2 linked regions of the Homo sapiens genome follow. The protein of the gene in region 2 purifies or fractionates together with the protein of the main gene of each other region. This does not show direct contact. Each region holds a gene or a part of one and is shown on either strand. Other genes may lie near its edges. The genes, in order: MAP2K1 and BRAP.

What was found.
Region 1: the proteins of BRAP (region 2) and MAP2K1 purify together in Homo sapiens (affinity purification with western blotting, with the first as the bait; one study listed by BioGRID). This does not show direct contact.

Annotation. Positions count from the first base shown.
Region 1 is NC_000015.10:66,389,912-66,393,411, reverse strand, and holds part of MAP2K1 (dual specificity mitogen-activated protein kinase kinase 1), read right to left. Parts: intron 1-3,500. UniProt on the Homo sapiens protein: Dual specificity protein kinase which acts as an essential component of the MAP kinase signal transduction pathway.
Region 2 is NC_000012.12:111,665,227-111,669,250, reverse strand, and holds part of BRAP (BRCA1-associated protein), read left to right. Parts: intron 1-33; exon of another isoform or gene 34-293; intron 294-611; exon of another isoform or gene 612-1,016; intron 1,017-1,323; exon of another isoform or gene 1,324-1,531; intron 1,532-1,835; exon of another isoform or gene 1,836-2,320; intron 2,321-3,463; coding exon 3,464-3,612; intron 3,613-4,024. UniProt on the Homo sapiens protein: Negatively regulates MAP kinase activation by limiting the formation of Raf/MEK complexes probably by inactivation of the KSR1 scaffold protein.

The sequences.
Region 1 (3,500 bases), on a different chromosome or scaffold from region 2:
AAGGTCAGGACTTGGAGACCAGCCTGAGCAATATAATGAAACCCTGTCTCTACTAAAAATATAAAAATTAGCTGGGCATGGTGTCAGGCACCTGTAATCCCAGCTACTCAGGAGGCTAAGGCAGGAGAATTGCTTGAACCTTGTGGGGAGGGGTTGCAGTGAGCCAGGATTGCAACACTGCACTCCAGCCTGGGCAACAGAGTGAGACTCGGTCTCAAAAAAAAAAAAAGAGAGAGAGAAAGAGATAACATGCCTTATCCTGGAAGGAGAGACAATGTACCCTAAGACCCAGCAATTCCACTTCTGAGTACATTCCACAGGAAACTCTCTCACAACATCCAAAGGAGACAAGGATGTGCAAGGATGGGCATGGTCATGACTGTTTGAGGCAGCAAGGGGTTGGGAAACAACAAAGATGTCTAATTCTAGAGAAATAAATAAGTAAAATGTGGCAGGCAAACATGACTGCTCTACAACCAAGAGAAATAATGAACTAGACACATATTGTATAGCATCATGAATAGAGCTCAAAACAAAATTGGTTAAAAAAAGAAACTAAGGCCAGGCATGGTGGCTCACGCCTGTAAGCCCAACACTTTGGGAGGCTGAGGCAGGCGGATCATCTGAGGTCAGGAGTTCGAGACCAGCCTGACCAACATGGTGAAACCCTGTCTCTACTAAAAATACAAAATTAGCCAGGCACGGTGGCACATGCCTGTAATCCCAGCTACTCAGGAGGCTGAGGCAGGAGAATAGCTTGAACCTGGGGGGCGGAGGTTGCGGTGAGCCGAGATCATGCCATTGCACTCCAGCCTGGGCAACAAGAGCAAAACTCCATCTCAAAAAAAAAAAAAAAAGAAAAGAAAAGAAAACAAAGAAGAAACTGATATAAAATTTAGGGATGGTCATTGCTTCTGTTCAAATACTCCTGGTGCACCAGCACAGTGGCTCATACCTATAATTTCAGCACTTTGGGAAGATGAGGTGGGCAGATCGCTTGAGCCCAAGAGTTCAAGACCAGCCTGAGCAACATGGTGAAACCCCATCTCTACAAAACAATCAAAACTTAGCAGGGCGTGGTGGCACGCACCATTATACTCCAGCCTGGGCAGTGGGAGCGAAACCCTTTCTTAAAAAAAAAAAAAAAAAAAAAAAACCCAAAAAAAACACACAAATATTCGTGGTTCTCCCCCTTCCAAAAAGGTCACTGCCCTCCTTGAAGGTCAACATGGCCACATGATTTGCTCTGGCCAAAGAAATGGCAGCAAAAATGACAAGGCTCACCTCTAGGCAAAACTTTAAGAGCCTGAATGTAGCTCTTCACAAGATTCCCTCCTCATGTAGGTATACTTGAGAGACGATGCCTCGATCAGCCTGGATCCCTAAAGGACTCCAATCTACAGAGCCTCCCACTGACCTGAAAGTGTGTTAAATTACTGAGATTTTGTGGTTGTTACCTCAACATAACCTATTCTATCCTGTCTATGAAATGCAGATTTGTAGCACAATAACATTTTAGAATCCTAAGCAGATACATACAAAACCATCCTTCTACTTCCCAAGGGTATACACATAACCAGACTAACAGGTGGAATTATAAAACCATATAAATATCTTAGAATGGTTGAGTGGGTGACTAAAACAAAAGAAAATGGGGAAAAAAGGAATGAGCATAAAGGGGAAAAGAAAAGGAAAAGACATAAAAAGGTTTATTAAACCCGTTGTGCAAATATTAGAAATTTCATTCACTCACTGACTCAACAAACATCTATGGACCTATTATGTGCCAGAACTATTTTGGGTGTACTTACAGAGTGGTGAGTCAAAAAAAGGCAGTGCAGGCTGGGCACAGTGGCTCACGCCTGTAATCCCAGCACTTTGGGATCACGAGATCAGGAGATCGAGACCATCCTGGCTAACATGGTGAAACCCCATCTCTACTAAAAATACAAAAAATTAGCTGGACGCAGTGGTGGGCGCCTGTAGTCCCAGCTACTTGGGAGGCTGAGGCAGGAGAATGGCATGAACCTGGGAGGCGGAGCTTGCAGTGAGCCGAGGTAGTGCCACTGCATTCCAGCCTGGGCGATAGAGCGAGACTCCGTCTCAAAAAACAAAAAGGCAGTGCTGTGCTTAAAGTTTATAGTGTACAGGAGAGATAAATATTAAGAACACCCCAATGAAAAATTACAATGATTAAGTCTTATTAAAAGCTCAGGTGAGCGCCAGGCACAGTAGTACCCACCTATAGTCCCAGCTACTCAAGAGGCTGAGGTGGTAGAATCACTGGAGTCCAGGAGTTCAAGAACCAGCCTGGGCAACATACCAAGACCCCCATACCAAAAAAAAAAAAAAAAGCAGCAGCTCAGGTGACATGACAAAGAGGGACCACATTCCTCTGAGATGCTTATAAACATCTCAGAGGAAGTGACATTTAGGCAAATAGGTGAAGACTGCTTCCTGCCTACCTAGGGAAGGAGGAGTGATTCATTCCAGGCAAAGGGAACAGCATGTACAGAGGCCTGCAGTGCGTATAGACCATCCCATAGAGGAAGTGAAAGAGGACTAGTGTGGTGGAAGAAAGGAGTGGCAGGAAATGTGGTTAAAGAGATTGGTGGGAGGGGGTGGTGGGGACAACAGGCAGATCACTCAGTCTCATAGTCCAATATAAGGAGTTTGGATTTTGTGTAACTGCAATAGAACCAGAAGAACATTTTAAACAGAGGAACAATATTATCTCATTATCTCATTCTAACACTTAAGACCCTAGTAATATGCTCACATGTTTCTGCAAAATACACAAAAGAAAGCTATTTTTGCATGATTTTTCTTTGAGGACCCCTACAACTTGCATCAACTTCAGGTCCCGTATTACCCAACTCCATCTCTGAACTGGGTAAGGGCTATGTTAGAGGTAAGCACAGGTGCCAAGGGAAAAGCAACCTTGCCAATTTGGTACCAAGAGTTCTTTACTGTCAAAATGGATTTTCTTCCTCTTTAGTTCACATTGTCTGATAACGTTCAAAATTGTGCCCTGGTCTAATCACAGAAATCATGAAAGCAACAGAATTCTTTCTGCTGGTAGCCCAAGATAGGGAACATTTTGCTTGAGGAACACTCTCAGAAGTGAAAGATGAAGATGTGTACAGCTTTCCCTCTCATTAGTGCTATGAAACACAGGGAAACAGTCCCTGTTTGTCTTGGGCAGCCTACACAAAGATGCCTCCTATTGTAACACAGCAATGAGTCATAGAGGTAGATGCAGATGGTACAAAAAACCAAACTAGGGAGAGTTGATTGTCCAGAAGCAAAGGCACCTTAACACATAATCTACCACCATGAATGAAAATCACCTTCCAGTTTCCTTTGGTCCAACACTTAGGCAGTAACAAAGGCACCAGCAGCCAACAGCTTTGGAAGTTTACTATGTACTACCTCATTTAATCTTCACAACTATGCTAAGTAGGTTCTATCATTAGCCCCATTTTTGCAGATGAAAAAAA
Region 2 (4,024 bases):
TCTCAAAAAAAAAAAAAAGAGAGAGAAGCAAATAGTTATTGTCTGTTTAAAACTGTAAGCAGTTACTCTCTTAACTCCCTTATTACCTAAACTTGTCTGGCTCCCAGGAACAGCCTTCTAGAGACAGGGAGTATTGGGAGGAAAACGTTACTTAACTATTGACTGAACGTAAATTTAGATAAAATTAAAATGCAGCTTTTTTCCTTATAGGCATTTGTTTTGTTTCAAGTCATCATAAAGTAGGTATTGCATTGCTATCAGTGGATACAGATGCTTAGCTCTTAAAAGAATTTTTTTTGGCCAGACGCAGTGGCTCACGCCTGTAATCCCAGCACTTTGGGAGGTTGAGGGTGGATCACGAGGTCAGGAGATCGAGACCATCTTGGTTAACATGGTGAAAACCCATCTCTACTAAAAATACAAAAAATTAGCTAGGCGTTGTGGTGGGCACCTGTAGTCCCAGCTACTCGGGAGGCTGAGGCAGGAGAATGGCGTGAACCCGGGAGGCGGAGCTTGCAGTGAGCCGAGATTGTGCCACTGCACTCCAGCCTGGGCGACAGAGCGAGACTCTGTCTCAAAAAAAACAAATTAAAAAAAAAAAAAAAGAATTCTTTTTAATGTAAACTGTTGAATATTTGAAATAGCCCACTTCACCTTAATGGGTCTTGTGTATCTTCATTTGTCTTCAAAGAAAAACCATTTGCTACCAAAGTAAATCAGTATTTCGAATGTGCTTCTCTTGTTTTTTGTTTATTAGCTAGTTGCTGTAAGCATTTCCACCAGAACTTGAGCCAAATCATAAGGAAGCTGTTTCTTTTAAAATACAAACCACCACCAAAAAATTAAATGTACATATTAAGCATTTGACTATTTTTATTTTTTTAAAAAGTATAAACACCAAAAAAAAAAAAATTAACATTGTATGAAGATGGAAAACAAGAAGATACACTTTCTGTAACTTTGTCTGAGGATTTAAATTACTAACTTGTGAATCCAATTTAAATTGAACTTAACTACTGGCTTCCCCCACACCCCGCCCCGACCCAGACGGAGTCTTGCTCTGTCGCCCAGGCTGGAGTGCATTGGAGCAGTCTCGGCTCACTGCAGCCTATGCCTCCCAGGTTCAAGTGATTCTCCTGCCTCAGCCTCCTGAGTAGCTGGGATTACAGGTATGCACCACCATGCCCAGCTAATTTTTGTGTTCTTAGTAGAGATGGGGTTTCACCACGTTGGCCAGGCTGGTCTCAAACTCTTGACCTCGTGATCCGCCTGCCTTGGCCTCCCAAAGTGCTGGGATTACGGGTGTGAGCCACCGTGCCAGCCCCAGCTTTCTTACTAGTAAAATTACATGGTTGATTTTAAATGTATACATGTTGACCAATGGCCTCTCAAAAAGCACATTTTAGATACTGGAGTAGAAGGAAAGAAAATGCATCTTCAAACATTTTTTTGGAATCTCACCACATATACTTTGTGAGATTTGTATATTGTAGGGTGTTAGTTTTTGTATTTTTGTATTGTGTATGAGCTTTTTTTTTTTTTTTTTTTTTTTGAGACGGAGTTTCACTCTGTCTCCCAGGCTGGAGTGCAGTGGTGTGATCTCAGCTCACTGCATCCTCTACCTCCTGGGTTCAAGAAATTCTCTGCCTCATCCTCCCAAGTAACTGGGATTACAGGCACCCACGACCACACCCGGCTAATTTTTTGTGTTTTTAGTGGAGACAGGGTTTCACCCTCTTGGCCAGGCTGATCTTGAACTCCTGACCTTGTGATCCACCCGCCTCGGCCTCCCAAAGTGCTGGACTTAACAGGCGTGAGCCACCCCGCCCGGCATCTTTTTTAATGTGACAGTTAAACACATCTTTAAAAGCATAGTCACAGACAAAAGAAGCATACAGTATAAACATTTCCTTGAAAACTCCTACAATATTATATTTGGAGGCAGCTTCAGACTGTTTTATTGGTGGTAACTGCTCGCTGAGCTCTTTTAGTTGGTAATAACTCCAGAGAAGCATCCTGTGTATATTCCTAACACTTGTTCACTAGCATTTAAGTTTAGAATGAGCCCCAAGTAAAACAATGGAAATGTATATAGAACTCTTAGTTCTTACATGATTTAATTATATCAAAATACATGAATTTAACTTACTTTAATGTAGGCAAACTATCAATTTTTGTCCATTTTCCTGTTTGTTAACATACCTCTCCTAGATATTCTTTTCTTGACCCAAATGAAATATTAACCTAAGGTCAAGCTGGGAGAGAGAAACAACTGAGATGAATGTCTTTACTAAAATACCGATAAATTTGTCAAACTCAAAAAAAAATTGACGTGATAAAATTGGGCATCCTTTGTGCTGGCTGCTGCACGAGGCCTCAGTTTTAGAGATTCCTTTCTTAAATGAACGTGGCTTCTTGAGAGATTTCCTGTAAGTATCTACTCTTCAGGGACTGTAGGTTAATGTGCTTTTTCTCTGTCCATAAGTGTGTGCTCCCTGACCTTTGCCTAAGTAATTCTTTCTCGTCTTCTGGCTGGAAGCGTCAAGTCAAGCACTGTCTTAGGAATGCCTTTCCTGACCATCTAGACTGTCATGCCCCCTAATTCACACCCTGTTGTGGCTTCCTGTACTGTTTGCTTTTTAATTTGATTTTTGTCTCTCCCTCCACTAGATTCTAAACTCTGTGGGGGCAGGAGCTGACTGTTTTTTGGACTTAACGTATCTGTTTTTGCTCACCACTGTTCCACACCTAGAACAGTGTCTGTCTGCTGCACATAGCAGGGGCTCAATCTCTATCTGTACAATGAGGGAATAAAGAAAAATCAGTGTTGTTGGTGCTGTCATCACTGAGTAGAAAGTGTTAAGTTATAACTTACTCTATGGAAAAATCCTTCAGGTCCAGCTATTCTTTTGTTCCTTTGTGTTCTATTATAGTCGTAGACACTTAGAGCTTGAGCTAGGAGTCTGGTCACATTTGAGATTTATATGTTAAGGTTTTGACAGCAGTCTCCCTTCCTGGAATGTCAGTTCTGTAAGGGCAGAGATCTTTGTTTTGTTCACCGCTGTACTCCCAGTACCTGGCACAGTGCTGGAACACAGGAGGTACTCCATCCCTGTTTCTTGAATGAATGAATAAATGAATGAAAATATTACCAATTTAAATTACTTGCTTAGAGTAATGATATTGAGGATATCCTGCCAGGAGTCAAAAAAGCAACTAGAAAACTATTATTAAAAGAAGAAAGGCCTGGCACAGTGGCTCATGCCTGTAGTCCCAGCTACTGGGGAGCCTGAGGTGGGCAGATCTCTTGAGCCTGGGAGGTCAAGGCTGTAATGAGCCATGATTGCGCCACTGGGCTCCAGCGTGGGTGACAGAGAGCGAGACCCTGTCTCAGAAAAAAGAAGGAAAAATAAAGTATTGCTGGTAGATGAAGAGTGAGGCTTATGTGAGGTGTTTCCTGTAGGGCGCCAGCCTCCCAGTGATGGACCTGACTGAACTCCCCAAGTGCACGGTGTGTCTGGAGCGCATGGACGAGTCTGTGAATGGCATCCTCACAACGTTATGTAACCACAGCTTCCACAGCCAGTGTCTACAGCGCTGGGACGATACCACGTGAGTGCAGGGGCCGAACCCCTCTGTGTACAAGCCCATTGCAACCCTTCCAGAATTAAAAAGAGCCACCAGCAGAAATGAACCATTCCAAGTATTTGACTTTATTCAAGAGGTCCTTTTTCTCCTTCCCTTTCCTAAGTTCAGGGAATCGGCATTCTGAGACCAAGTCCTTTTTTAGTATGCTGATTCTGAACCCTTGTGGAATTCCCCAAAGCAGCATGAGTTGTTCTTTCCTTCCAAGAGCCAGAGAGTGAAAAAAAAAAGCAAAGCTTAGTTTGAGGCTCTCGTGCTGCAGTGAAATCTAGGTCTGGAATCTCATGTATCAGCTGCACTTGGTGTCTGCCATTCACTCTGGGCTTCTTATCAACTGGGCTACAGCAGCCTAATATTTTAGCTTTGCTGGGCTGTTGAT